4 linked regions of the Homo sapiens genome follow. The protein of the gene in region 1 purifies or fractionates together with the protein of each later gene. This does not show direct contact. Each region holds a gene or a part of one and is shown in the gene's direction. Other genes may lie near its edges. The genes, in order: PUM3, RBM28, GTPBP4 and RPL7L1.

Region 1 (7,627 bases):
TTTATATCAGTAACATGCCCTCTATCTCTGCTTATGCATTTGAGAAACAGAAAAACAACGTAATTCGTTAAAAATCCACTAATTAGAACTCCAGAGAACTGATTTTGGGAAGGGGAAGATGTATGGGAGCTGACACCTAACCTATTTTATTTTTATGGAAAAAAGAAAATTACACAAAATTATGTGAAATTGAAAAAAGAAGCAAACATTTTCCAGAGTATGTTTGAAAGTGTATAGTTCAAATTTAAACCATTTTTTAACATCTAATGGTATTAAATCACTTTAGGAGAACTCAGTCAGCAAGAAAGATACAATTCTCTCCAATGTTCTACTTACAGAGAGAAGCATATTGTATATTTAATTCTTAAATTCTGGTGCCTGCAATACAAAGAGGAACCAGGAGATTTAACCCCTAGTTAACTAAAATATCAAATCAACAGGCCCGGGGCAGTGGCTCACACCTGTAATCCCAGCACTTTGGGAGGCCAAGGCAGGTGGATCACCTGAGGTCAGGAGTCCAAGACCATCCTGGCCAACACCGTCTCTACTAAAAATACAAAAATTAGCCGGGCCTGGTGGCGCACGCCTGTAGTCCCAGCTACTTGGGAGGCTGAGGCAGGAGAACTGCCTGAACCCGGGAGGCAGAGGTTGCAGTAAGCTGAGATCGTACCGCTGCACTCCAGCCTGGGTGACAGAACAAGACTCTGTCTCAAACAGACAAACAAAACTTGAACCCCATTCCTTAAATAACTGGGTCTTAACCTTAGCTGCATGTTAGCATGATCTAGGCATCAAATTCTCAATGCTCAGGTCCCATTCCAGACCAATTAAATCAGAACTACTGCTACTTAAAGAAACAAAAACAAAAACTCCACAGGTGATTCAATGCGCTGCCCAGATTGCTATCCACCACCTGGGATACTATAGTTATTTTAAGTTTTAAACCAGATTAGCTTAAGTCACAAATTAAATCTCTACTGCTGGATAAAAGCATATTTGCTAAGTGATCTTTAATTTTACCAGAGTACTAGAAAAAGAATGAAATCCAAATGCCTGGTTAACATTGTATCTGATGGTCTTTCAATTCTGGGGTGGCCGTGTAATCCAGTTCTTGGCACTGAAATAGAAGGGAGACTCCTGTTGGGTCTTTTCCTTCTGGGATAAAAGGACGGAGCCCCACTGGGAGGAAATAGTGGATTTCATTTCTTTCTGCACTTTCACTAGCCCTGAACTCTTAGATAAATATGGAAACTGAGGAGTTCATCTTGCAATCAAAAAGCAGTAAATGGGACAATAAAAAGTCAACGTTGAGGATGGTGGTAGAACAGAGACTGGAAGAGCGTGGGTCTTTGATGACATTGTTGTGTCATTGAACCACAACAACCAAGTACCTTCCAAATTTTTATGTTAAGAAAATGATTGCTTAAGCCACCATTAGCTGAACTTTCCGTTATGTGAAGTCAAACGTATTTCTTTTTTTCTTTTTTTTTTTTGAGGCAGAGTCTCACTCTGTTGCCCAGGCTGGAGTACAGTGGCACAATCTCCACTCACTGCACCTCCGCCTCTCCAGTTCAAGCGATTCTCCATGCTTCAGCCTCCAGAGTAGCAGGGAGTACAGGCATGCACCACCACACCTGGCTAATTTTTGTATTTTTGTAGAGATGGGGTTTGGCCATGTTAGCCAGGCTGGCCTCGAATTCCTGGCCTCAGGTGATCCACCTGCCTTGGCCTCCCAAACTGCTGGGATTACAGGTGTGAGCCACAGCGCCCGGCCCCAAAGTATTTCAAATGGGTACACCTTGGTTCTCTCTTAAGCTACAAATCACTCAACATTTACTACTGGCTAAGAACTTTAAGATATTATCACTTTTAAGCCTCACAGCAACTCCAGAAACAAGTGTTGTTATTCCCATTTTACATATGCAGAAACTGAGGCCCATACAAGTTGGCTATCTTGTCCTTGGCCATACAGAATTTAGATTGTAAGCCAGGTTCCTTTGATTCTAATCTCAATGCTCGTCATTGCATTGCTATAGTACTGTTATTAACCTCTTGGATGTGTGCAAGTCTAGTTGCTCTGATTAAATTGTGTATCACGCAAGAAGAGCATCTTAGGCTTGTAGGAGTACACCTAGTGGTCTACATTTAGATCATTAGATATTTGAAGAATTAATGGGTTTGCTTGACAAAAAAAAAAATTACAGGATAAGCTTTTTTTGTGCTGTTCTGCAAAACCACACGATGCTTTCAATTCACTCCAAAAAAAAAAAAAAAATCCAAATCAATCCACTTTCACAGAAGACTTGATAAAAAAGTTTTTAATAATAATCAAGGGCTTTGATATGTGATAACATTTTTTTTTTCCTCCCTGGTGAAAAGGCAAATGAATAGCAGGGTTTTGGTGCAGATGCTTAAGGCAACTGCATGGACCTATCTTCAAGGATATGGGGTGCTGCTGTCTGTCGAGTTGAAAACACAAACGTATCCCTTCCCAGGGTTGTGTGATAGGGTGTATTTTGCGATTTTTCTTTCTTTTTGGCCAGCATTTACTTGTCAGGTGTTTCAAGGTGTCTAATATCCCCACTACTATGCTATTTGCCCAAAAGGCACAGCTGATGGGCCTCCTGCAATTCCTGTTCCATATTCTCTTCTCTTAGCATTTACTGAATTATTGAAAGCAGTACGGAGGCAGCCACGTTGAGTTTAGAGTCAGGCTCACTGGACCAAAGCTACTATGTTTTGCCTTTCTCTGTAAAATGAGAAAAGACCTATTTAAAACGTTCTTATGAGATTTAAATGAGCTGAAATGTAAACTAGTAACAGTTAAGGTAGACGACAAGAACTTATCAAGTATCTATGTGCTGCATAGTGAGATAAGTGCCTGGAAAGTAATGATGGCCCCTGTCATCAAGAAGCATACAGTCTACTAAATTACCAGTTTCAACTCTAACTCCTTAGTGGCCAGAAAACGGAGTAAGTTGGAAGACAGTAAAATCTGAAGTCTGGCACCAGGGATCAAGTGCCAGTTCCTCAACTTTACAGATGCAGTGGGTTGAATAGTCTCCAAAAGATATGTCTATGTCCTAACTCCCAGGACATGTGAAAGTGACCTTATTTGGGAAAAGGGCCTTTGCAGATGTGATTAAGGACCTCCAGATGAGATGATCTTGGATTATCCCCGTGGACTCTAAATTCAATGTTCAGTGTCCTAAAAACACACAGAGAAGTGGCACAGGCACAGGAGAAGGCCATTAGAAGACAGGCCGAGATTGGAGTCATGCAACAAGAGGCCACGGACCGCCTGGAACCGTTAGAAGCTGAAGAAGCAAAGCATTCTCCCCTAGAGCCTTCAAAAGGTGCAGGGCTCTGCCAACAGCTTGATTTTGGAATTCTTGCCTCTAGAACAGTTAAAGAATAAAATTCTGTTGCTTGACACGAGCAAGTTTGTGGTGTCAGTTTCTTCATCTGGAAAATGGGGCATATATCCTAACCACAATCTTATTTCCTGAAGTATAAAATGGAATAACAGCAGTTTCCAGGCACGAGCAGACACTAAAAATGGCAAACATTTATTGAGAGCGTTCCATGCTAAGCGCTTTGCACGTATCACTTAATTATTTCTATTTTATTGATCAGGAAGCCAAAGCTCATAAAAACTGTAATTTTCCCAGAGCCACACAGCTAGCAAGTGAAAAAAACGGGATTACAATTCAAATCGACTCACAAGATACCCCTTTTATCCTCCACGCTGGACTGCTGAGGAAGTATGCAAATTAACACACTTTAGAAACTTTAGCTACTTCAATATTTGTTCAGGCTACGGGATGCAGGCCTCTTATTAACCGCGCCAGCCAGGTCTGTCCTTCAGCAGCCTGTTCTGCCTCGCAAGAGCTCTCCCTCTCTTTCCAGCACGGAAGCCACAGGGTTAATGACGTCATTTCCCGTGGCCGTTGTCGCGTCCTCCGCCCGACGGATTCTTGCAAGGGCCAAAATCCTCGCGCCTCAAGAGGAGGCATAACAGCAGCGGACCAATAGAAATTCCGAATTTTTGTATTCTCTGGGAAGCTCCACCTCTTAGTCCCTGATCCGCCGCGGAAGATGAAAAAAAGCGGCCCGGGGGCGGAGCAAGGCAAGGAAGCGGAAGCGGAGAGGCGGTCGGGATCCGCTGCGCGAGCTGTCTCGGTCCCACGTGTGCGGTGAGTGTGGCAGGCTCAGCGGTCGCTCTTGGGAGGGGTTCGCACCCTGCCGGGCGCTGGAAGTCGGGAAGGTCTCTCGGGGCTGTTGTCCACTGGGCAGTCTCCTCTGGCCTCTTTCTGGGCTAGGAGTTTGGGACTGACTGGAGCCTGGCAAGAAGGGCGGGACTGGCCGGGCGCGGTGGCTCACGCCTGTAATCCCAGCACTTTGGGAGGCCGAGGCGGGCGGATCACAAGGTCAGGAGATCGAGACCATCCTGGCTAACACGGTGAAACCCCGTCTCTACTAAAACTACAAAAAATTAGCCGGGCATGGTGGCGGGCGCCTGTGGTCCCAGCTACTTGGGAGGCTGAGGCAGGAGAATGGCGTGAACCCGGGAGGCGGAGCTTGCAGTGAGCCAAGATCGTGCCACTACACTCCAGCCTGGGAGACAGAGCAAGACTCCGTCTCAAAAAAAAAAAAAAAAAAAAAAAGAAGGGCGGGACTCCGACCTCTCTCCCACCACGTTGCCCTGCGTGCCGGGTTAGAGTGGACTAGCTTCACTCCGGAATCCCAGCCCGTGCTCGGCCTGATCAGCCTGTCTGTGCTACTTCACAAACCCCAACTCCAGTGCTAGGCGGTTTGCCTGAATGTACGCAGATTCTAAGTGCTGGGAGGAAACGAACTGGATGCTGAGTTGGCAGATAGTGGAGTCTGAAGAAGTGATCTTTAAACGGAGATTTGGAAGCTCAGGGAGTACTTCAAGCAGAGGCGATAATGGGCTAAGTTCCTGAGATGGGAGCTAGGAAGGAGTATAGTTAGAGTACAAGATAAAGTTAGCCGGATAGAGTGGAACTAGGTTCTGTAGGGCCTTGAAGGTCATGATGGGGAATTTTTTTTTCTGTACAATAGGAAAACATTTCCGTTCCTATTACCATGTGTAGAAAACATTGAAGACTTGTAAGCAAGTGAGAATCATGAATAGGCCCTGGTTCTCTTTAGAAAATGTATTACATTTGGAAGCTCAAGAGATTGTATTGGTAATAGTTTGCATTAGGGTGGTGACGTAAGGGACATTTAAGAGAACTAACTTATGGTTCAGCGTGGCAGAGTAGAGAGGAAAATGTCAAGGGTAACTCAGATTTCTTACTTGAGCAGTAAAGTAGATGATGTGCCATTGGCTGAGATGGAGGACGATAGGGCAGGGAAAAATAGTATATTGTTGTTTGTGGGGCAAACAACAATAACATAAAGAACAACATAGAGAATTATGTTTTGGACATATTAAGGGTAAGGTTCCTGTTAGACACATAATTAGAGGTATCAGATAAGCAGTTATACACAAGTTTGGACCCCAAGGAGAAGTTCATAATGGAGACATGATTTGGGAGTACTCAGCATAAAAAGCCAGGAGATTGGATGAGACCACCTAGGGAGAAGTGTGGAGAGAGAAGGGAAGTTCCCTAGGGCAAAGATTTGAGGAATGCTAACATGTAGAGGTTGGTCTATAAGAAAATGTCATTTAAACTGAATTTGAAGGATGGGTAGAAATTGTGTTGGTAGAGAGAATGGCTTTAAACTTCACTATTCTGATAAGAATAGTGGCTCCTGTGTGGTGGTGATGAGTGGGGTGAATTAAGACCACATTTTGAATGGCTGTGAATGCCTGAGTTGGAACTTTTTCCTGAAGGCAGTGGGAAAGCTTTGAAGCTATTGGAGCATGGAAATGACATGAAATAGGTGTGCTACTGGAAGGTTAATCAGGCAGCGGAAAGTGGATCAAAGCAGATAGGATCTAAACAAAACTGAGCAAGAGGTAACAGGAGCCTGAATGGGGTAATAGAGGGAAAGGAAAAAGGGGGGCGAATTCCAAGAGACACTATTGAATGTGATGATTCATTACGAAGGTACAGGGTTCCCAAGCAAAGCAAATTGCATTTTGCCCAGTGCAAAAAGCAAGACTCAAAAAGTTACATATTGTATGATTCCATGTATAAGAATGCCATTCTGGAAAAGACAAAACAGGAGTGAAAACCTAATCATTGGCAGTCAGGAAAGAGGGAAGGAGTTGAATACAAAGGAGCTGTACCAGGGGACTTTTTAGAGTGACAGGACTTTTCTGTAAGATACTGTGGTAGTGGATGCATGAGTCTTAGCCATTTGTTGAAGCCCGTGGAATTATACACCAGAAAGAGTAAACTTGACTATATGCACATTTAATAAATCTGCCAGCATTTCTGGGGATGGAATGCAGGCTGTGACAAATCAGTTAAACTATATTATAAACATGTAACTTCACTAAAGAGGGTGAGGGGCCGAAGGGCTGATCTAAGAACCTTTTTTTTTTTTTTTTGGCCTGCAGCAGTAATTGCTGCAGGCAGAATACACTGACTTGAATGCTAAAGTTAGCAAGTAAAACTTAAGAGGAGGTAGGATGTCCATATATTCTCCAAACATCTTGTCTGAAATGTTTATTAATTGCTATGGTAGTTTAACATTTGAAATAGAGTCTCACTCTGTTGCCCAGGCTGGAGTGTAGTGGCACAATCTCAGCTCGCTGCAGCCTCTGCCTCCTGGGTTCAGGTGATTTTCCTGCCTCAGCCCCCTGAGTAGCTGGGATTACATGTTTGCAACACCACCATGCCCAGCTAAATTTTGTATTTTTAGTAGAGATGGGGTTTGGTCTTGAACTCCTGACCTCAGGTAATCCACCTGCCTCAGCCTCCCAAAGTGCTGGGATTACAGGTGTGAGCCACCATGCAAGCCTCTAAGTAACTTTGGAAAAGTATTTTGAATGGATACAAAAAAGAATTGTACGTCAACACTGTACTGTCATTGTAAATTTATTTCTCACGGGGTACAGGTTAGCAATTCTGAAACTATGCATGTATAGTAGGGTGGAATATGTGTATAAATAAATTGTAGATGGTGGGAAGCAGGTTGCTCACTGTCAGAGAAGGAAGTTACAAATGAGCAAGAGGAGATGCCTGGAGGAAAATATGTGGTGCTTGATTAGATTTGGAAACATCAGTATGAGCTTCAAGTTATTGTAATAGATATAAAAATAAATATAGGTATGTGCATATGCATAAGTTAATATACATATATGTGTTTCCTGAATCTGTCTGCCGAAAGGACATAGAAACAGGGACACCTCAGTGACAACAAGTGCGCCTAGCACTCAGATCTTGGTTTTTAAATACCATTCTCAATGAAAGGAACCAGGATTCCTTGGAGAAGTGGCTGATTTCAGGGCTAGGTTAAGGAAAATACAGAAGGAACCTGGAGCCAGTGCCAGGAAATAAGGATGTGCTTTAAAAGCAAAACAAAACAGTTGGGCCGCGTCAAAAGGACACAGAAGCAACCTGAGAAACTTCCCCCTGGCTGGAGCTAGCATTATTTGAGCAACAAAATAACAGTGGTATTGGATTATAACCAAGGAATGAAATAAATA
Region 2 (8,022 bases), on another chromosome or scaffold:
GCCTACACCCTTCAGTTCCAAGTCTTGGTATTGTGGGGACTGAAAGACAAACTCACATTCATTCATTTATTCATTCATTCAATCTCTTAAAGAATATTTACTGAATGCCTATGACGTACTAGGTGCTGGGAATAGACAGGTGAACGAGGTAGACACCAGCCATGAATTTACGAAATTGAAAGCCTGTTGGGGGAAGGCAGATGTTAAACAACTAATGACATAAATAATCACAATAGCACAAGTAATTAATTATAGTTGTGACAAGTGTTAAGGCCAAGAACTATTCTGTATTATAAGAAGGTTTAGCTTGCCAGGGGGAGTGGAGCTAGAGGGATGGGATCTGGAAGAGGCTGGCTGAGAACAGCCCAGGCCTCTCTTACTTCCTTTCCTGGCTCCTGCACAGTGATGGATGAGGAGGAGGCCAGCAGTTTATTTCCCCTGGAAGCCACATTGCTGGTGTGATGCAGGGTAGCACAGCACCTGCTATTTAATAAAGATTGCTGCATGTGTCTTGGGTAGATGGATGAGCAAATATTCCTGAGGAAAGAACCATTGCCTGCCCTGATATAAATGGATTGGAGGGGATTGGGCTGAGAGACAGATCGGGGAACCAGGTCTGAACCGTGGGGAGGGTAGAAAGGGTCAGCTGCACTGTTGTCCTCCCAGAAGGGCACAGAACCCTGCACTGTGGGTGGCTGCTGCCCCCTGATGGGCATAGAGACACAGTTAGATTTGTCCTAAATTAAGGAAGATTTGGATCAGAGCTATTTAAAACTTAGCATTTGTGGAGGGTCTCACAAAGGAATATTGGAACAATCTTCTCAGGATTGTTTTCCTTGTACAGACTGCAGCCAGGACTAGGAAGGCTTCCCCTTAGCTGGGGTTCTGAAGCTCACAATTTAATCTTTGGGGGTGGAATTTTAATTCCTAAGGTGATAGGAGTGGGCAGGAGGGAAGGAGAAGGAAGAGGAGGATGTGGAGTCCCAAACCAACTTTGTTACATGATCCATCCCATTGCCTTTATCTGTTTGTTTCTCTTTATCCTGGATAGGATTAACATAGCAACCTTAAAAATCTGTTTTGTATTTCAAAGCTTCCTTTCCTGAGTAATATTTTTAAATTTATTTTTAAATTTTTATTGTTATTGTTTTGAGATGGGGTCTCACTCTGTCACCCAGAGTGCAGTGCAGTGGCACGATAGCTCACTGCAACCTCCGCCTCCCCAGGTCAAGCGATCCTCCCACCTCAGCCTCAGAGTAGCTGAGACCACAGGTGCATGCCACCACAGCCCAGCTAATATTTTGTACTTTCGGTAGAGATGGAGTTTCATCATGTTTCTGAGGCTGGTCTCAAACTCCCAACCTCAGGTGATCCGCCCGCCTTGGCCTCCCAAAGTGCTGGGATTACAGGCATGAGCCACCACACCGGGCCTACAAGGCATTTTTTTTTTTTTCTGTCTGACTTTCTGGAGGGCCAAAGAATGATAACATCTGCTTATTGTGAGAGGGTTCTGAGAAAGTTAGCCAAACCTTTAGCAGAAAAATACCTAGGGGAAACCTTCAACAGAGAGGGCCCTTCTCCATCACAGTGCTCTTGCTCACTCCTCTCTCAAACAAGGGCAATTTTTCAAGAGTGTTAATGGGAAACCATTAGGCATCCACCTTAAGGTCCTATTTTGGCTCCTTCTGACTTAGTTTTGTTTCCTAATCTTAAAAAATCTTTAAGGGGCTCACATTTTTCTTCAATTATATATATATATATATATATATATATATATATATATATATATATATATAGAGAGAGAGAGAGAGAGAGAGAGAGAGAGAGAGAGAGAGAGAGAGAGAGAGAGACTGCATTGACATGCTTAAATTCCAAAGACCTTAAGTTCTTTAGAGATGGACTAAGTGGCTGGTATCATTGCTTACAAATGTGTTTTGAACTTGATGGAGCTAATGTTGAAAAATAAAGTTTAGGCTGGGTATGGTGGCTCATGCCTGTTATCCCAGCACTTTGGGAGGCCGATGACGGCTGATCACTTGAGGTCAGGAGTTCAAGACCAGCCTGGCCAAGTTGGTGAAACTCTGTCTTTACTGAAAATACAAAAATTAGCCAGGCATGGTGGTGGGTGCCTGTAATCTCATCTACTCAGGAGGCTGAGGCAGGAGAATTGCTTGAACCTAGGAGGTGTAGGTTGCAGTGAACCGAGATCGCACCACTGCATTCCAGCCTGGGTGACAGAGCGAGACTCTGCTCAGAAAAAAAGAAAAATAAACTTGTATTTTATTTTCAGAAGTCTCGAACTCCTGAGTTCCAGTGATCTACCCATCTTGATCTCCCAAAGTGAGTTATATATTTTTTTGAGATGGAGTCTTCCTTTGTTGCCCAGGCTGGAGTGCAGTGGTGCAATCTCGGCTCACTGCAACCTCTGCCTCCTGAGTTCAAGCGATTCTCCTGCCTCAGCCTCCCGAGTAGCTGGGATTACAGGCATGTGCCACCATGCCCGGCTACTTTTTGTATTTTTAGTAGAGACGGGGTTTCACCATGTTGGCCAGGCTGGTCTCGAACCCTTGATCTGGTGATCCACCCACCTCGGCCTCCCAAAGTGCTGGGATCACGGCCGCTCCTGGCCGTGAGTTGTATTTTTAAAAAATAATCGTGAAGTTTTATTTTAAGCATAGATTACTTACTTCGAACTAGAGCTCCATAAATGTGATGTTTAGCGTCCCCCTAATCTCCACTCCCATCACTATCAACCAGTCGTCTAGCCATCCAAAATGTATTGAAAGTGAATGGGGCTTGAGGAGATCATGAAACTTAATTTTCACCATAGTGCCTTATAAAAGGTACTAAAACTGTAAAGTTTTTGAGTTTTCTATCTGCCATGTTACTATCATTTAAAAGTAATGATTTGGCTGGGCTCAGTGGCTCACGCCTATAATCCCAACACTTTGGGAGGCCGTAGTGGGAGGATTGGTTTATCCCAGGAGTTCAAGACTAGCCTGGGCAACACAGGGAGAACTGTCTGTACAAAAAAATAAATAAATTGGCCAGGCATGGTGGTACACACTTGTGGTCCTAGCTTCTCAGGAGGCTGAGGTGGCAGTATTGCTTGAGCCCAGGAGATCAAGGCTGCAGTGAGCCATGATGGTGCCACTGCACCCCAAGTTGGGTGACAGAGCAAGAGTCTGCTAAAAAAAAAATTATTTAAAAAATGGCCTTGGGTACTTTTTTTTGAGCTAGTTGTTCTGCAAGGTGTAGCTCTCTTGCACCTATTCAGGTCCTGAGCCCAGTGGCATGGCAAACACTCTCTGTGTTCCAGAACCAGGAGCACCCAGATTTCCTAGCCAATTAAGAGCTCTCAGCTTTGGGTCTGTCTGATGAGCTGACTTGAGACAAAGATCTTCTGTTTCTAGGAGGACATGGGTTCTAGGTCTCTGTGTATAAGTTGGATGTTATGTTTGCTTTGAGTGTGTTTGATGTGGTCCTGCAGTGTGTGTGCTGTGATTTATTTGTAAGAATTTTTGGACTAATAGTCTTCCCAGCCAGGTGTGGTGGTTCACACCTATAATCCTAGCACTTTAGGAGGCTAAGGGGGGCTAATTGAGCTCAGGAGTTTGAGACCAGCCTGGGCAACATGGTGAAACCCTGTCTCTGCAAAAAATACAAAAATTAGCCGGGTGTGGTGGTGCACCTGTAGTTCCAGCTACTCAGGAGGCTGAGGCAGGAGGACTGCTTGAACCTGGGAGGTCGAGGCTGCAGTAAGCCGAGATCGTGCCAGTGCACTCCGGCCTGGTTGATAAAGTGAGGCCCTGTCAAAAAAAAAAATCTGTTTCCACCATTAGACTGTAATCTCTATGAGGGCAGGGACCCTGTCATTTCTTTGCTCACCAGTTTTATCCCTAATGCTTGGCTCATAGTTAGAGCTCAGTATATATTTATTGAAATAATAATTGTGTACTATCTGTGTCTATGTGTATTTTAGTAGCTACAATTTGTTTGTGAGGCTGAGGTGACAGACAGCTGGTGTTCTCCGAAAATGAGAATCGTCCGAATGATGTATATGATATATCTATGTCTACGTGTTAGTGTTCCGGTTGTGTTTTATGCACGTAATCTGGGAATTTGTGGAGGCACTTCAGAAAATATCAAACACCCACAGTATATCAGATCCTGAGTTACGCCCGGGGCAAAAACGACTTCTTCTGCCTGTCCTGCTAACTTTGGGGAGGATCTGGAGGTGAGATTTTTAAACAGGGTAGAAATTATTTATTTTTATTTTGTATATTAAGAAAAAAAATTACTTTTTGGAGGCCTTCCGGCAAAAACCAGAAAGCCTGCTAGGCAAATTCTAAAAAAGCTGTAACACTAGGGTAGAAATTATTGATGCCAAGTTTACACAAAAGTGGCGAGGGCGATGCTAGGGCAGGGGGCGGAGCCCCGCTCCAGAAGCTACGCCCCGGGGCGCCATTATTTTTTCATTCCGGAACCTTTTATCCCCCTCCCGACCATGTTTTCCTCCGGTCTCTTTTGGGCAACGAGCACTTCCGGAATCTCTCGGCGTGTGAGCTTGGTTGTCCTACCAAAGCCAGCGTTTCGGCTCGCGTGCGCCGGCCTAGTTTGCTCGCGTCCTCACGCGCTTTGGGTTTCCCGGTCTCATGGCCGGCCTGACCTTATTTGTGGGCCGCCTCCCGCCCTCGGCCCGCAGTGAGCAGCTGGAGGAACTGTTCAGTCAGGTGGGGCCGGTGAAGCAGTGCTTCGTGGTGACTGAAAAAGGTAGGGGCGGGGCGGTCGAGGATAGGGCTGGGGTTTCCTGCGATCGAGGGCACCTTCCCAAACTTCAGGGAGCCGTATCATTCTTTACCCTCCCCGAAGAGAAGGGACAGGGAACTGAGTTTCTTTTCCAAACTGATTCTGCTTTAGATGCGTTCATAGGAGTCAGTTTATGAAGGGCAAAGCATTCCCTTACGTTTCTATAGCGCTTTCTGTTGATTATGCGCGCTAAAAATGAAAATAGTTAACTAGAGCATCAGTAAGACTTATTGAGAGTCACCTGATTGGCAGGTACAGTGATCAGTTTGATACAGGTTATCTCATTTAATTTTCTCAGCAATCTTACCGGATGGAGAGTCTTAATGTCATTTTACAGACAGGAATCCGGGATTTAGGGGAATTTAGTAACTTTAAGTTTGTACGGCTGTTAAGTAGTGGACCCCCGATTTGATCCTCAGACCTGGACATCTTAGCCAGGATGCTATCCACTTGTTCATTCATTTATTCAGCAAATACTTAATACCTACTGTGTGCCAGGAAGTGTTGTAGGTCCTGGGGATGCAGCAGTGCACAACACCAAACCAAAAAAATCTTTGATTTTATGTCTTCAAGGTGGGGAAGAGAGCCAATAAACGAGCCAATAAACAAGCCAACCGTGAAAATGATGTCAAATGCTAAGGAGAAAAATAAGCCAGGGAAAGGGGTTAGGAAGTCTATGTGCATGTGTATAGTGGGGAGAGGGGGTGAAGAGTGGCAATATAGATAGGGTGGCCAGAGAAGGACGGACTGAGGTGAGAGAGTGAACACATGCCTCTCCGGAGGAAGAACAATTCAGGAAGAGAAAACAGCAAGCTCAAAGGTACTGAAACAGAGGTGTTTTTGGTATATTGGAGGAGTAGTAAGGAGGACAGGGTGACTGGATTGAAGTGAGTAAAGGGAAGAGAATTAGGAGATGAGATCTAGAGTAGCAGATCATGTAAGATTTTTTTTTTTTTTTAAAGACTGCGTCTTGCTCTGTCGCCCAGGCGGGAGTGCAGTGCCACGATCTCCGCTCACTGCAACCTCTGCCTCCTGGTTCAACCCATTCTCCTGCCTCAGCCTCCCAAGTAGCTGGGATTACAGGCGAGTGTCACTACACCTGGCTAATTTTTGTATTTTTAGTAGAGACGGGGTTTCGCTATGTTGGCCAGGGTTGTCTGGAACTCGAGACCTCAGGTGATCCGCCCGCCTCATGTAGGATGTTATAGACCATTGCAAGGACTTTGGCTTTTACTCAGAGATAGGAAGCCACTGATTTTAAGCAGAGAGCAGTAAGTGTGATCTGGCATTCGTTTTGAAAGATTCTCTCTCTGGCTGGTGTGTTGCCAATAGACTGTTGGAGAATAGGACAAAAGCTTATGTACTTAAAATAGGGACCGAAAGTCCTGTACAGTAATGTTTATTAAACTGCAGATTATTACCTATTAGTGGGTCTTGAGTGGGTCATGACTAGAGTTTGTTTTGTTGTGTTTTAGAAACAGGGTCTTGCTCTGTCAACCCTGTTGACAGTTGGAGTGCAGTGGTGCGATCACAGCTCAATGTAACCTTAAACTCCTGGGCTCAAGCAATCCTCCTACTTCAGCCTCCCAAGTAGCTATGACTACAGACGTGCTTCACCATGCCTGGCCAATTTTTGAATATTTTTTGTAGAGACAGGGTCTCACTACGTTGTCCAGGCTGGTTTCAAATGATCCTCCTGCCTTGGCCTCCCAAAGCACTGGGATTACAGGCATGTGCCACCACGCCTGGCCTAGAGTTCTTAAAAAATTAAATAGTATAGGAGTACGTCCATATATGGTAAAGGATAAGTATTTGTAAAACTTTTAAGTTTTAAATAAAGAATATATGTATGTACTGGGTTCCAGTGTAAGTAGCATTCCGTACCCAGGTGGTTGTATTCCAGGGAAGAATAGGCCATTGAATGGGAGTTCTCCTTTGAGTCCTCAGAATATAGGCTACATGCAATCTTACCTTACACCTTGTGTACTTGGTCTAAATCCTTAAAAATCTCTTACTTCCTTTTAAAAAACTATGCACTTTCCTATCCAGACAGCTGATATGTACTGGAAAGAGTGCTGCACTCAGTGAAACGGGAGGGAGGGTATGTGGAATGAAGTCTTCCTCAATAGCAGTGCATGTCACTTCACCTCTTTAAGATGGGAATAATTTCACAGGGTTGTCAGGGACTCTAAATGTATGTGAGCATGCTTTATGCAGACATGTAAAATGTGTGGTATTTACTGTATGTCCTTTCATTTGGGTGTCAAACTCTTTTACATTTCAGCTGCTTTACTTTTGGTTGTACTGATCATGAAGGGCTATGAATTTTCTTGTGCTCATTTTCTGAAAGGTGAGTGGGCAGCTTTTATGATAAGGAGTTCAAGAGAAGAGAAAAATTGATGTTATGTTGCTTTAACCAGTTTATGTAGATCAGTGTCCTGTGTCAAAGGGCTTATACCCTGAAGGAGATTCAAATGCAGTGGAAAGAGAAGCAGAGCATATGAACTATGTGTCCTTTTCAGGTAAAGGCAGACTTCTTGATCTGTCCTTTTCCTTTTTGATGCAATAAATTATTTAAAATTTTACTATACAAAATGTTAAACCAAAAAGGGCAAAGGTGGGTTACAGTTGATATTTGTAGTTTTCATCTCCTTGGTCCTAATATTATTCTTTGTGGAGTCCTATGGAAGAACATGGGGGCTGGTGAGGAGGAGTTAATTCAGCTACTAACACCCTGTGTGACATTAACCAATTCACTTACTGTCTTCCATCTCAAATTACTTACTTGGAAAGAAGGGGTGATAATATTTGCTTTACCTATTTTGAGGTGTTCTAAAGATAAAATGAGACAAGAATGCACAGCTGCTTTGGAAAGGTTTAATTTGATATCGACAGCTAAGGCGTTGGTAATAGTGGTCATAACATCTGCAGTCTCTCTGAGCAGTATTTATTGTTTGAGGTTCTTTTGTCTGGGCCTCAGGCATTTATTGCTGATCTATTTTGAGGAGTAACTGCATTATTGTGTTCTGATTTTTGAAGCTACCATACTGTCTTAATTCATTTTCTGTTGCTTATAAGAGAATACCTGAAACTAGGTACTTTGTAAAGAAAAATTTATTTCTTAAGTTCTGGAGGCTGAGAAGTCCAAAGTTTAGTGGCTGTATCTGGTGAGAGCCTTCTTGTTGGTGGGGACTCTGCAAAATGCCCAGACAG
Region 3 (7,616 bases), on another chromosome or scaffold:
TCCCAGCCTCTTCCCCTCTGCAGTGCGCGCTCTTGGGCGCAAGAAGCCTTGAGACTTCCCTCCTCCGCACAGCTGTGCCCGTGCCATCCCCTTCCACGAGGCCTGGCCCCCGTCTCACCCTCTGCACTGCTGGCCAGCATCTCGTACAGGCACATCTGCCTGCTGGGCTCCTGGCCGGGTTGCCTCATTGGGGGGTGATAAACGTGTGTGTTTTAGTTTTCATTTTTGTCTTATTTGTAGCCAGTGAGGTTGTATTTGGGGTGACATTAGAACGGACACGTGGGATGTGGCACGAAATCAGTGTCTCAGGACTGAGTTCCTTGTGTGTGTCTGCCGGGAGCATTGGAAGTGAAGGAGGCGGTCTCTGCACATTTTTAGCCTTGGAATTTAATTGTTTTAAAAAAAGGAAATGGTGCACAGGGGTTACTGACTTGCTGGCGGCTGGCGTTCACGTGGTCTCCATTTTCTTCACAGAACCCTCCCTGTGAGGTAAATGGCACATAGGCAGGGCCCAGGTGGGTCTGGACCAGGGCAATCGCTCTCCTCTGAGTCAGGGAAACAAAGCTCCCATACACACTCTGCCACACTCACTGACTCAGGGGTTTTCTCATTGTTAATTTTGCTTCATTACAACTCCATTTTTAAAGAAATTGGAAGAATTAGAAAAAGAAGAAGAGCTGAGAACAGCTGCTGGAGAGTATGACAGTGTATCTGAGAGTGAAGACGAAGAGATGCTGGAAATCCGACAGCTGGCAAAGCAAATTCGAGAGAAAAAGAAGTTGAAAATTCTGGAGTCCAAAGAAAAGAATACACAGGGACCCAGGATGCCGCGAACTGCTAAGAAGGCAAGTTTGTGTCTTTCCAAAGCAGTGTGATCTAGTTTTTGAAAATTGGATTCCTGTGTGATCATTGCTAAATAACAACTTTTCAACCCATTTATGGCCATAAGATTGCACATTCTTGTTTTATTGGTGTATGGATTTGCAAGATCGCTCACGTATTGATCTTTTATATTCTTTACTGCGTCCTTTCTTGGTGACTTTCAGCTTCGAGTTTGGCACTACTCTAGATCCAGTCATTTTGCAGTTGTACAGATTAAAACTGTAACTTATGGTTCACAGACGTTCAAGGCTATCAGTGAACATTTTCCTCTTCTTTTTTCTCTCTCTCTTTTTTTTAGGGGGGAGATGGAGTCTTGCTGTGTCTCCCAGGCTGGAGTGCAATGGCGCCATCTTGGCTCACTGCAGCCTCCACCTCGCGGGTTCAAGCAATTCTCCTGCCTCAGCCTCCCGAGTAGCTGGGATTACAGGCACCTGCCACTACGCCTGGCTAACTTTTGTATTTTTAGTGGAGATGGGGTTTCACCATGTTGGCCAGGCTGGTCTCAAACTCCTTACCTCAAGTGATCTGCCTGCCTTGGCCTCCCAAAGTGCTGAGATTACAGGCGTGAGCCACCACGCCCGGCTGGTTTTCTTGTTCTTTAATTTCTGCATTAAATCTGGACTCTTTAGGCCGGGCGCAGTGGCTCACGCCTGTAATCTCAGCACTTTGGGAGGCTGAGGTGGGTGGATCACGAGGTCAGGAGATTGAGACCATCCTGGCTAAAACAGTGAAACCCCGTCTCTACTAAAAATGCAGAAAAATTAGCTGGGCGTGGTGGCGGGCGCCTGTAGTCCCAGCTACTCGGGAGGCTGGGGCAGGAAAATGGTGTGAACCCGGGAGGCAGAGCTTGCAGTGAGCCGAGATTGTGCCAGTGCACTCCAGCCTGGGCAACAGAGCAAGACTCCATCTCAAAAAATAAAAAATTTAAAAAAAAATCTGGACTCTTTAGCAATTTACAGAAACCTGACGCAGTCTACAAAAGGCAATTTATTGGCTCTGTGGCAGGGTGGGACTGGGGGAAGAAAGCCCACATGCAGGGCAGTTAACATGTAACCAGAGAAGTCACTTGACATTCAGGATGCCTCTCAGTGGGTCTTCCTGTTTGAATACACTGTTTTCACATGGTGGCAAGTGACTGGTTATGGCGGACTTGGACATTTTTGTACTTCTCCAGGTGGGGCTCAGCCATCTCTGGGAGGAGAGAGGTTGGCGCACTGCCTTTGTCTGAGGCCACCTCACTAACCTCAGCTTTAGTGTCTCACCTCTGATGGAGACGGTCACTCTCTCCCCCGTGTTGCGGTGAAGAATGGACAGACGTGGAGGATACGCTGATTCTTCCCACAGCAACTGCTCTGTTAATGTTAGTTTTCGTGGGATTTAATTGAGCTATCCAAAAACATGAAAGCGGGGCCCAATAAAAATTACAACTTCTAAAATAAGTATATTATAATTGTTGCAAAATATGTATACATATATATTGCCTTGAAGTTTTTTTCAACATTTCATCAAACTAATTTAAAGCTAATATTTCTTTTTATCCTTCTCAGGTTCAGAGGACAGTTTTGGAGAAGGAGATGCGTAGTCTTGGTGTTGACATGGACGATAAAGACGATGTGAGTGTGGGGGCGGTTCATGTGTTTATGTGGCTGGATACACCTTTTTAATAAAGAAAACTGGCCGGGCGTGGTGGCTCATGCCTGTAATCCCAGCACTTTGGGAGGCCAAGGCGGGCAGATCATGATGTCAGGGGTTCGAGACCAGCCTGGCCAACATGGTGAAACCCAGTCTGTACTAAAAAAAATACAAAAAATTAGCCGGGCGTGGTGGCGTGTGCCTGTAATCCCAGTTACTCAGGATGCTGAGGCAGGAGAATTGCTTGAACTTGGGAGGCAGAGATTGCAGTGAGCTGAGATCGTGCCCCTGTACTCCAGCCTGGGCGACAGAGTGAGACTCCATCTCAAAAAAAAGAAAGAAAGAAACCAGGGTTTTGGAAAGCCGTGGGAACGTGGGAAATTACAGCAAAAAGAAATGAGAGCTTCCAGTTTTTCTCTTTTGAGATTCGCTGGCCCTGGGACTGACTTGAAGTGATGGGTTGAGGATTCCCTGACCCTGGGTCTGGGTTGAAGTGGTGGATTGAGGCTGCACTCCAGCCTGGGCAACAGAGCAAGACTGTGTCTCAAAAAAAAAAAAGCTCCACAGCCAGCACGAGACAGCACCATGACGTGCCCAGGGTGTGGCTGCAGACCCTGTCCTCTAGATGTGCAGTCTGCAGTTTCCGTCTGATGGTTTCTGTCTGATGGTTGTCCCTTTGTGTTCATATCAGTAACCCCCAAAATGGGGCAGTGAGGGAGAGAGCATTGTTTATATCTGAAATATAAATTGTGATGCTATACTATAATAATCACTTTTAAATGAGAGTTCTAAGTTTCTTTAAGTGGAGTTAAAATCAGCTTTCTTACGTAAAGCAGCTTCCGTTAAGTGAATAAGAATATTTGACCAACAACTAATGTGAAATTGTTACTAATGTGAACTTGAAATGGTGTCACTAATATGAAAATACTGCGTGTATTTTCAAGACCTTTAGCCCATGTGTTAATGGTTCAGACGCTCCTCTCCTCCCCTCTTGCTGGAGTGACCTCATGCCTGTCGCTGAGCCTGGGTGCGGGGCTGGGGTCCTGAGCTCTGAGCCTGGGAGTGGACCTGGGGTCCTGAGCGCTGAGCCTGGGAGTGGACCTGGGGTCCTGAGCGCTGAGCCTGGGAGTGGGGCTGGGGTCCTGAGCGCTGAGCCTGGGAGTGGGGCTGGGGTCCTGAGCTCTGAGCCTGGGAGCGGGGCTGGGGTCCTGAGCGCTGAGCCTGGGAGCGGGGCTGGGGTCCTGAGCGCTGAGCCTGGGAGCGGGGCTGGGGTCCTGAGCGCTGAGCCTGGGAGTGGACCTGGGGTCCTGAGCGCTGAGCACTGAGCCTGGGAGTGGACCTGGGGTCCTGAGCGCTGAGCACTGAGCCTGGGAGTGGACCTGGGGTCCTGAGCGCTGAGCATTGCTTCCCCTGCTTTGCAGGCCCATTACGCAGTCCAGGCAAGAAGATCCCGGAGCATCACTAGGAAAAGAAAGCGGGAAGACTCTGCTCCCCCGTCCTCTGTGGCCCGGAGTGGGAGTTGCTCTCGAACTCCACGTGACGTTTCTGGTCTTAGGGATGTCAAGGTCAGTCTCTGTGTTGTGTAATGTAATAAAATGACAGTCTCTGTTGTTTATTGCACAGGGTTCAGGGCAAACACCAGCAGTTGCCATTTGCAGGAACTATGGCAGGGGTTGTGTGTACTGCATGCCCTCGTTTTGTGGCATCCTTTAGAGGAGAGCACGGGTCAGGGTGCAGGTGGATGCCCCTGACAGCTGCCCTGGATGGACCCCTCCTTGGCACTTTGCTTTTGCGGAGGGTGGCCAGAGCATGGTCTGACAGCACTAGCAGTCTGGGCTTAGACCCTGCTGTCTGAAGAGGGCCAGGAAGTGGCCACAGCTGAGCACCAGGAGGCCTCAAGTCCAGCAAGCCCCCCATGGGAGGAACAGCAGAGGGAACTCCTGGGTTGATTGGCGGGTGATCCTGCTCATCCTTAGGTTGCAGGATTGTTCCCCCCAGGTGGAGAGCTTGAGTCACATTTAGTTTATTTGTAGCGTCTTTTGGCAAAGACACTTAAGATGGACACAGTCTGTCTTGCTGAAACGTCCTTTTATTAAACACAACAACTTTTAGTTTCAGCGTTGTGGTAATGGAGATGCAGGAGAGTCTGTGTATAAACTGCAGTCTCCTTCATGGAAGCCTGAGCTTCACTCCTCTGTGCCATTGCCATCTTGAAACCTGGCTGTTAATATTGGCATTGCCACTTGTCAGTCAGACCTGAGGAAAACAGGTTCATGGGCCTGAGTCCTTAGCTTGTGTAAGAGGGAGTTAAAACAGATGTGTGCTAACCTTCTAGGTCTAAAGTGTATCTAGTCCTGGGTATAAAGCTTGTCCTGGGTATGATTTTCATCCAGTCTTTATACAAAAATACTCATTGAGTTCCTGCAGATAACTGTGCTGGGCTTAAGAGAAAAGAGATGTAACAGGGATAACTGTGCTGGGCTTAAGAGAAAAGAGATGTAACAGGGGTAACTGTGCTGGGCTTAAGAGAAAAGAGATGTAACAGGGGTAACTGTGCTGGGCTTAAGAGAAAAGAGATGTAACAGGGATAACTGTGCTGGGCTTAAGAGAAAAGAGATGTAACAGGGTCTCTTCGCTGAGCAGACCTGAGCCATTAAACAGATTGTTACCCAGTAGTTGAAATTCAGAATGGAAAATTGGTTTTAAGTAATGAACATACTTTATTTTTTTCTCCTCCTTTTAGATGGTGAAGAAAGCCAAGACTATGATGAAGAATGCTCAGAAGAAGATGAATCGGTTGGGGAAGAAAGGGGAGGCGGATAGACACGTGTTTGATATGAAGCCCAAGCACTTGCTGTCTGGGAAGAGGAAAGCTGGTAAAAAGGACAGGAGATAGTATCCGTTTGGTTGGCGTGGCTTCGCTAGAGTGTTGCTGTTTATTTCCTGGTTTGGCACAGTATGGTTTCATGAAATTGGAGCTCTGTATAAACTGAAAAAGACAAAATAAGTAAAGCACTTGTTGCTTTGCTGAAAACTATGGTTAACCCTATATAGGTGTGGGAAATTTTTGTCACTGCATAATATTACAAATATTTTGAGTAGACAGTGTTTCCACATTTAATGGAGTATCAGTTGCTTCAGATTTTCAGAACTGGGAAGATTTACTGGTTTAACTAGGTTGTTTTTGATGGAGAAAAACCTTATTTTCTTTTGTAAGAGCTGGGAGCAAACACGTTTATGAGTGTGTCGGAATCCCGTGCTTAAAATACGCTCTTAAATTATTTTCTAGTCTTATTTTACAATGTCTCATTGTAGTCTGTCTTCAACTATTTTATCCAAAATAAACCTCCAGAAGAAAGTAGTTTTCATTTACTTAGCTCATGTTTTGGTTTAGTTATAGTCGCTATGGATTTGGCCAAATAAAAAGGCAAACAACATGACATTTCTATTTTGTTTTAAAGCAAAAATACTTTTGGGGGAGTAAAATGTTGCTGGAGGCATTAGGCAATTAAATATGGGCATTCTCCTATTTCTGTGGCCCGTCCCTGAAGTTACATGTTCAGTAAAACACAAAAACACCGCCAATGCCACCTCAAAAGCACCTGCTGGGGAGCGTTGGGGTGAAGAGCTGTGGGGTCGGAGGGACCTGCCCAGGGGTCCGTGTGCTCCTGGAGCTCCAAAGACACACAGGGGTCCAAGAGCCACCACGGATAAGTTATCAAGTCACACAATCAACATTATAGCTGAGGAAAGGACTTTAGTTAATCACACTTCTGGATTACATGTGGCAATTTTAAAAATTTACCAGGGCTGGGCTGGGCGCAGGGGCTCAAGCCTGTAGTTCCAGCACTTTGGGAGGCCGAGGTGGGCAGATCAGGAGGTCAGGAGTTCGAGACCAGCCTGGCCAACATGGTGAAACCCCATCTCTACTAAAAATACAAAAATTAGCCATGCGTGGTGGTGGGCATCTGTAATCCTAGCTGCTCGGGAGGCTAAGGCAGGAGAATTGCTTGAGCCCAGAGGCGGAGGTTGCAGTGAGCCGAGATCGTGCCACTGCACTCCAGCCTGGGTGACAGAGAGAGACTCCGTGTGAAAAAAAAAAAAAAAATACCAGGTCTGGTTTTTGAAATTCTTTCTCCGTATTAAACACCAAAACTTAACATATAGTTTACTTTGTGTTAAACAACAACAGTATGGCCGGGCGCGGCAGCTCATGCCTGTAATCCCAGCACTTTGGGAGGCCGAGGCAGGCGGATCACGAGGTCAGGAGATCGAGACCATCCTGGCTAACACGGTGAAACCCCGTCTCTACTAAAAATACAAAAAATTAGCTGGGTGTGGTGGCGGGCGCCTGTAGTCCCAACTACTTGGGAGGCTGAGGCAGGAGAATGGCTTGAACCCGGGAGGCGGAGCTTGCAGTGAGCCAAGATCGCACCACTGCACTCCAGCCTGGTCGACAGCGAGACTCCATCTCAAAAAAAAAAAAAAAATACCAGGTCTGGTTTTTGAAATTCTTTCTCCGTATTAAACACCAAAACTTAACATATAGTTTACTTTGTGTTAAACAACAACAGTATGTTTTAAAGCAAGTATGTCTTTATTTGTAAGCATATTACTGAAACGATCAAATGAACAGAAGTGGATAAACGTCGAGTCACTTGGCTGAGACCATACGCATCTTCCGTACTGCTTGTATTAGGATGCAAGATTGAATGTGTCTTTTTTTTAAAAATGCAGCCTTGTGTTGCACTCTGAAATAAGTGATTTAAAAAGAAAAACATGATACAGAGATCCCATCCTGACCTTGGAGGCTTGGATAAAGCTGTGGGGAGACAGCCTCATGGTCCAGCCAGGCTAGTCCGCCTGCTTCAGGACTCTCAAGATCTCCCCAAGACTTTCAGGATCAGCTGCTGTTAATCAAACAAGTGCTTATAAAATGGAAATTGGGACAAAGGAAATGTTAAATTTCCTCCCTGCAACCAGGCAGATGAGAAATATGGAAATAAGGAAAAGGGAAAATGAAGATATGACAAAGTTGATGAAAAGGTTGAAATAGTGATTTATACATGATGGGCAATCAAGTGCCCCTTTTGCCCTGTTTT
Region 4 (7,616 bases), on another chromosome or scaffold:
CCCTGCCTGGCCTGGATTACTGATAGCTAATACAGTGTACATAATGTATTTTAAAAATTTGTATTACTTTTTACGGTTATTTTTCATTTTTTCCCCTGAATTTTTTTTTTTTTTTTTTTTTAAGAGTGAGGTCAGCTGGGCTCACATCTGTAATCCCAACACTTTGGGAGGCTGAGGCGGGCAGATTACTTGAGGTCAGGAGTTCAAGACCAGCCTGGCCAACATGGTGAAACCCCATCTCTACTAAAAATACAAAAAATTAGACGGGCACTGTGGCATGCGCCTGTAATCCTAGCTAATCAGGGGGCTGAGGCAGGAGAATTGCTTGAACCCGAGAGGCGGAGGTTGCAGTGAGCTGAGATTGTGCCACTGCACTCCAGCCTGAGTGACAGAGCAAAACCCTGTCTCAAAAAAAAAAAAAAAAAAATAAGTGGGGTCTTTGGCCAGGTGTGGTAGCTCATGCCTGTTATCCCAGCACTTTGGGAGGCTGAGGCAGGTGGATCTCCTGAAGTCAGGAGTTTGAGACCAAGCTGGCCAACAAGGTGACCCTGTCTCTACTAAAAATACAAAAATTAGCCGGGTGTGGTGGCGCATGCCTGTAATCCCAGCTACTTGGGAGGCTGAGGCAGGAAAATGGCTTGAACTCAGGTGGCAGAGGTTGCAGTGAGCCGAGATCATATCACTGCACTCCAGCCTGGGCGACAGAGCGAGACCCCATCTCAGAAAAAAAAAAGAACAAGGAGTGAGGTCTTGTGTTACCCAGGCTAGAGTGCAGTGGCAGGATCATAGCTCATTGCAGCCTTGAATTCCTGGGTTCAAGAGAACCTCCCGCCTCAGCCTCCTAAGTAGCTGGGACTACAGGGTGAGCTACTGTATGTGCTCCTCCAAAGTATTTTCCATCTGGGGTTGGTTGAATCACAGATGCAGAGCACCAAGTGTATATGGTTTATGTCTTCATTTAGCAAATATTTAACACCTGCAGGCAAATGCTGGCGTGGAGTTTAAGGAAACTTGTTAGTAAACACTGATTAATATGTAAACTAATTTTTTGTTCGTTATTTTTCCCAATAATTCCCAAGTTTCCTCAACTCCACCTTTACTTTGGTTTCTCATTTTTCCTTTATATGAAAATAGAGAATGTTGCTTTGCTTCGCATTGTGGAACACGGGGAAATAAGCTATATCAGTTGTCACTTATGAATTACTGTTCTAAAAGTAAAAATGTATGGAGGCACAAGATGATGATGATGGTCTGTCTTCTCTGTAGCAGAAGAAAGGAAAAGGGCTCAGGTTTAAGCGACTGGAATCATTCCTACATGATTCCTGGCGGCAGAAACGTGACAAGGTGCGTCTCAGACGACTAGAAGTGAAACCTCATGCCTTGGAATTGCCAGATAAACATTCCTTGGCCTTTGTTGTACGCATCGAAAGGTAAGGAACTGGTGTCTTTCTAATTGCATGAGGCTGGGGCAAAGTGTTGCTTAAGCTTTAGACCCCTTTCTAGGGAGATAATATGCCCCAAGCCACTCAGGCAAATTGTGCTAGGATGTCAGGGTTGAGCACAATTTAGTCTGCAATATTTGGAAGACCTTAGACAGATAGGCTTGAAAATAAGTGCTATGAGGGTAAAGTGCTCACTAGGGAGAGGGGTTGAGGACACCCTCTCTAAAGCAGGAACTTCAACCTGAGACCTGAAAGATGTGAAAGGCGTTCACCAGTGTTGGGAGATTTTTCAGGCATACGTGCTGAAGTCCTGAGGTAGGGAAAGCAAGGCATCATTCTAGGAACTGAAACAAGGCTGAGTGGATGAAGCATATTCAGTGAAGGGGAGACATTTTTCCTCATTTAGTGGAACTTTCCCAACCCCCTGCCCACCCCATGTACAACTCTACTTCTTGCTGTTTCCCCTACCCAATCACCCAAACCAGAAACCTGTGGATTTTGCATGTTTATGAGCTCTGTCCTTTGTAGCCCTCTACCACTGCTCATATTTTTCCTGAACTATTGTATTAACCTTCCTCCTGGATTTCCTTGCCTCTAGTGTCATACTGTGATCTGTCCCATACACTGCCCTTGGTGATTGTCAGAAAGAAATCTGGTCTGGTCTCTTCTGCTTAAAATCTTCAGTAGCTTTTACTGCCCATAGAAGCACATCCAGCTTCCTTAGCTGGACATGTGTAGACCTACATACCACCACTCCGCCTACCCCTGAAACACACACAAGTTCAATTTCCATAGCATTCCAGGCACTGCTCCACATTATGAAAAGGATCTGTTTTCATAACCGCCTCCCACTAAACTGAGCTCTTTAAGGCATAGTCTCTGTGTCTTATTCCAGATTACCCAGTGTAGTGACCTCGCATGTTGTGCTTGCTGGACTGACATAAACTGGAGGGAGTCTGTCTGACTTCTGTTGCTGTTCATTTCAGGATTGACGGCGTGAGTTTACTGGTGCAGAGAACCATTGCAAGACTTCGCCTAAAGAAAATTTTTAGTGGTGTCTTTGTAAAAGTCACCCCCCAGAATCTAAAAATGCTGCGTATAGTGGAACCTTATGTGACCTGGGGGTAAGTAAGGTTTTCCATGTGAATTCACATTAGATTTCTATTTGAGTGTGTCAGGGTGCACCGGGTATTGCTTTCCAGGGCTCATGTTGCTGTAGAAGGGACATTTTGCTGTGACCACAGTCAACCTGAAATCAGTGGGTAGCTGTAATAACCATGGGACACAGGGTAGGGAGGGGTCTGAACAATACCATAGTAGGGCTGGTTCAGTCATAGGCTAAGGCTGGGTCAAGGAAAGCTTGGTTCTTGAAAGTCTTAAAGCAGAGCTAAAGGCAGTGCATGTGTAAGAGTAGTATTCCTGGCCGGACACACTGGCTCATGCCTGTAATCCCAACACTTTGGGAGGCCGAGGCGGGTGGATCACACGGTCAGGAGTGGATCACAGGGTCAGGAGATTGAGACCATCCTGGCCAACATGGTGAAACCCCTGTCTCTACTAAAATACAAAAAAAATTAGCCAGGCATGGTGATGTGTGCCTGTATTCCCAGCTACTTGGGAGGCTGAGGCAGGAGAATCGCTTGAATCCATGAGGCAGAGGTTGCAGTGAGCTGAGATTGTGCCACTGCAATCCACTCTGTCTCAAAAAAAAAAAAAAAGGCCAGACACGGTGGATCACGAGGTCGGGAGATCGAGACCATCCTGGCTAACATGGTGAAACCCCGTCTCTACTAAAAATACAAAAAAAATTAGCCTGGCACCTGTAGTCCCAGCTACTTGGGAGGCTGAGGCAGGAGAATGGCATGAACCTGGGAGGCGGAGCTTGCAGTGAGTCGAGATCGTGCCACTGCACTCCAGCCTGGGAGACTGAGCAAGACTCCGTCTCAAAAAAAAAAAAAGAGTAGTATTCCTCAAACATTGAAACCCAACAAAAACTTGGATTTTATTTCCAACTCTTGCACCATCTTGAGTAGAGGGTCACCTAAGGCCAGAGTCGTAGCCCCTAAGGTAAGCTAGGACATGGTTTCTGTTTTGTTTTTGTTGGCAATATTTTCCCTGGTGAACATTTACATCCATAAATTTAAATTTCTAATTATGTAAGTGGGGTCACTTCAGTTCTTTATCAGGAGTATTTCCAAGCATTTCAGCTGGAATGTGATTGCAGAACACTTGCTCGTTGGGAGAAGTGAGTGTGTGGGAGAACCTCTCCAACCTCTCAGCCAGGCTGCAGGACTGGTATGTAGTGTGCCAGGTGCTGGTGAAAACCGTGCTTTATTTTCCTACATAGATTTCCAAATCTGAAGTCTGTCCGAGAACTCATTTTGAAACGTGGACAAGCCAAGGTCAAGAATAAGACCATCCCTCTGACAGACAATACAGTGATTGAGGAGCACCTGGGTGAGTGCTACAGCTTAGGGATCAGCTGGGGCAGAAAGCCAGGGTCTTTGAAGCTTTGATGTGAGATTCAGGTTGTATTCTTCTTGGGGCCCCAAGAGTCTGCCAGAGTGGCCAGCTTAGTATATGCTGGATACATGTTAAATAAAGGAATCTGTGCTTTTGTGTTTCTTAGGGAAGTTTGGCGTCATTTGCTTGGAAGACCTCATTCATGAAATTGCCTTCCCAGGGAAGCATTTCCAGGAGATCTCATGGTTCTTGTGCCCTTTCCACCTCTCAGTGGCCCGTCATGCTACCAAAAATAGAGTGGGCTTCCTCAAGGAGATGGGCACACCTGGCTATCGGGGTGAACGCATCAATCAGCTCATCCGTCAGCTGAACTAGACCCAGGTGAGGCAGGGCTGAAAACTGCCCTTGGGCTGACTTTTGATAGGCCATGCCTTGCCACTTTACAAGTTCTTTTTGCATTTACTAGTATTTAAGAGTAACCTTGAGATTGGGAGGAATAGAGGAGGCTGGTACAAATAGATGGAGACCTGCTGGGATCAGTGAATGCCTGATTAGGACATGGGGCTATGCATAGCCTAAGAGTTATAGGCTTAAAGATGTCGAGTAACTAAAAACTGTATTGCTGGCCGGGCGCGGTGGCTCACGCCTGTAATCCCAGCACTTTGGGAGGCCAAGGCGGGCAGACCATGAGGTCAGGAGATTGAGACCATCCTGGCCAACATGGTGAAACCCTGTCTCTACTAAAAATACAAAAATGAGCTGGGTGTGGTGGCGCGTGCCTGTAGTCCCAGCTACTCGAGAGGCTAAGGCAGGAAAATCGCTTGAACCCAGGAGGCAGAGATTGCAGTGAGCCAAGATTGCACCAGTGCACTCCAGCTGGGCGACAGAGCGAGACTCCATCTCGGAAAAAAAAAAAAAAAAACTATTGCTGCAGTCATTCAGATGGAAATGAGGAAAGAATAATATTAATAACTGATTTCAAAAAGGACTTGAAGATGTGAATCATCTATTTTGCTGAAGAAATCTTAACTCTTTGAAATTACTTTTTATTGCTGTTGTCATACTCTTAGGTGCCAAACTGCGGTAAATTTTTTATCAGTGAAGTGGAAGCATGTGTTTTGTTTTGGAAATTTTTATCAAGTATCTTCAGAGAAGATTATTTCCTGCTTTATCTTCAGAAACTGGAAAGGGTCAAAGAAAAGACAGTAGCTGGCCGGTCGTGGTGGCTCATGCCTGTAATCCCAACACTTAGGGAGGCTGAGGTGGGCAGATCACCTGAGGTTGGGAGTTCGAGACCAGCCTGACCAACATGGAGAAATGCCATCTCTACTAAAAATACAAAAATTAGCCGGGCATGGTGGCACGTGCCTGTAATCCCAGCTACTCAGGAGGCTGAGGCAGGAGAATCGCTTGAACCTGGGAGGTGGAAGTTGCAGTGAGCTGAGATCACGCCATTGCACTCCAGCCTGGGCAACAAGCGAAACTCTGTCTCAAAAAAAAAGAAAAGACAGTAGCATATGTTCATGTCAAGCACCTCTCATCACAGTCGAGTTCCAAGGAAAAATTCCAGTGTTTTCTGCATTGGGTGCTGTGTCATCTGAAATCGGCACATTCCATGGAGGAAGGAGTCCTGCTTTGTTGCATGTATCCTAGGGTTTAATGTTGGTAAATGAGTCACTCTAGCATTTGTAGAAGGCTCCCTGAGACTCCTGCAGCAGTCGACCAAGCCCAAGGACATAATTGAATCTGGAGAGTCCTGGGGCCTTGTTTTGAAAAAGACTTGAAATACACATAGGAAGAAAGGCATAAAAATAAATGTTCACTTGTCTCTGCTGTGAGTATGTGTTCCAACTTTTCAGTGATGGCTTTGAGAATTCTCAAACTTGACTGGCTCTAAGTGTATCTGGTGGCTTTTGTATCGTAACCTGAAACTGGCTTAGTACTTTTTCCTAAAAGCTCAGGATTTGAGAATGAGGACCCCTTCGCCAGGAAAACATGTATACACTCAAAATTTTGCTTGCAGTTCTAGGGTGTTTAGACCCTTCTCAGATACCTGTGCATCTTATGGGTTTTGTTTTTCTCTTTGAGACAGTCTCACCCTGTTGCCCAGGCTGGAGCGCAGTGGCATGATCTCAGCTCATTGCAGCCTCCACCTCCTGGGTTCAAGTGATTCTGCCTCAGCCCCTTGATCAGCTGGGATTACATGCATGTACCACCACACCCAGCTAATTCTTGTATTTTTAGTAGAGATGGAGACAGAGTTTCACCATGTAGGCCAGGCTAGTCTCAAACTCCTGACCTCAAGTGATCCACAAGCCTGGGCCTCCCAAAGTGCTGGGATTACAGGCATGAGCAACTGCGCCCAGCTCTTGTGTACCTTATGTGAGGAAGTCCTGCTCAATCAGGATCGGTCACGCAGGCCCTGATCTTGCTACTCTGGTTCCATGTCCTATGGAAGACCAAAGTTTACCAAGATAGATTTTTCCCTTCATAGTGGCAGATAGTGTTAACCCCTGCACCATCTGTAACTCAGAAATCCCCACCATTTCTTCCCCTGGGCTTCAGAATAGAATTGCCTGGTTTCTCTGATGATCAGCATGGTTCCTTAAAACCCAAATCAGCAAGGAATGAACAATTTTGTTTGGCATGGATGAAATTAGCACTGTTTGGCTCGTTAGGCCCCAGGCAGGCAGGCACCTTAATTTTTTCCTTGCATATTCTAGTCTTCAGAAGCATTGCCTTTTGTCCTACTGGTAGTGACATAGACCAATAACAGGGCATCTGGGGATTTTAATCCTGAAAACAGTGAGTCTGATACTGCTTGTGTTTTTCATCAGTGTCCACCCCAAGTGGGTCTTCCTGCTATTCTCTTCACTTAGTTGCCCCTCACTTGCCATCTGAGCAATTGGCAAGGATGTGCCAGGCCTAGGTTAAACTTGGAAACATGCTTGACCATTCTATTCCCTGGTCCTTTAAGATCAGTTTGGCTGCAATTTTGGCTCCTTGGACCCTCAAGCATAGCTGGTAAATCAAGTTAGAGATGTAACTGCCTTAAAACATGCCAGCTTAGGCTGGGCACGGTGGCTCACACCTGTAATCTCAACACTTCAGGAGGCTGAGGCAGGCAGATCACTTGAGGTCAGGAGTTCGAGACCAGCCTGACCAACATGGAGAAATTCTGTCCCTACTGAAAATACAAAATTAGCCGGATGTGGTGGTGCATGCCTGTAATCCCAGCTACTTGGGAGGCTGAGGCAAGAGAATTGCTTGAACCCAGGGAGGCAGAGGTTGCAGTGAGCCGAGATCACACCATTGCACTCCACCTTGGGCAACAAAAGCAAAACTCTGTCTCAAAAAAAAAAAAAAAAAAAGTGCCAGCGTATGAGGTAATTAGATTGGTTCTCTCCAGAGGTAACCTGCCAAGAAGAGATGCTATAGATGTTACTCCTATACTGTAAAACATTGTGAAATCAGATTACTTTAAAATGATGTATTACAAAGTTATGCAAAAAAGCAGTTGTGACTATGGAAGCCCAAGGCTTATATCCCAGCTCTGTCTTACACTAAATATGGGTACAGTGTTTCCACTCTGTCCATAAAATGGGAGCTAATATTCTCCAACCTGTGTGCCTGACATGATGGTTAAAGGGATTAAACAAAACAATAGTTTGTAATTTATTCTGTCAGAGCAAACTGCTGGTAAATAAAAGG

What was found.
Region 2: the proteins of PUM3 (region 1) and RBM28 purify together in Homo sapiens (affinity purification with mass spectrometry; 2 studies listed by BioGRID and IntAct, with this or other methods). This does not show direct contact.
Region 3: the proteins of PUM3 (region 1) and GTPBP4 purify together in Homo sapiens (affinity purification with mass spectrometry; 2 studies listed by BioGRID and IntAct, with this or other methods). This does not show direct contact.
Region 4: the proteins of PUM3 (region 1) and RPL7L1 purify together in Homo sapiens (affinity purification with mass spectrometry; 2 studies listed by BioGRID and IntAct, with this or other methods). This does not show direct contact.

The regions. Positions count from the first base shown.
Region 1 is NC_000009.12:2,840,614-2,848,240, reverse strand, and holds the start of PUM3 (pumilio homolog 3), read left to right. Parts: upstream 1-4,145; 5' UTR 4,146-4,196; intron 4,197-7,627. UniProt on the Homo sapiens protein: Inhibits the poly(ADP-ribosyl)ation activity of PARP1 and the degradation of PARP1 by CASP3 following genotoxic stress. Binds to double-stranded RNA or DNA without sequence specificity. Involved in development of the eye and of primordial germ cells.
Region 2 is NC_000007.14:128,340,427-128,348,448, reverse strand, and holds the start of RBM28 (RNA-binding protein 28), read left to right. Parts: upstream 1-4,540; 5' UTR 4,541-4,655; coding exon 4,656-4,773; intron 4,774-8,022. UniProt on the Homo sapiens protein: Nucleolar component of the spliceosomal ribonucleoprotein complexes.
Region 3 is NC_000010.11:1,011,818-1,019,433, forward strand, and holds part of GTPBP4 (GTP-binding protein 4), read left to right. Parts: intron 1-647; coding exon 648-845; intron 846-2,429; coding exon 2,430-2,495; intron 2,496-3,935; coding exon 3,936-4,079; intron 4,080-5,257; coding exon 5,258-5,410; 3' UTR 5,411-7,616. UniProt on the Homo sapiens protein: Involved in the biogenesis of the 60S ribosomal subunit. Acts as a TP53 repressor, preventing TP53 stabilization and cell cycle arrest.
Region 4 is NC_000006.12:42,882,185-42,889,800, forward strand, and holds part of RPL7L1 (ribosomal protein uL30-like), read left to right. Parts: intron 1-1,266; coding exon 1,267-1,430; intron 1,431-2,428; coding exon 2,429-2,566; intron 2,567-3,789; coding exon 3,790-3,899; intron 3,900-4,071; coding exon 4,072-4,280; 3' UTR 4,281-7,616.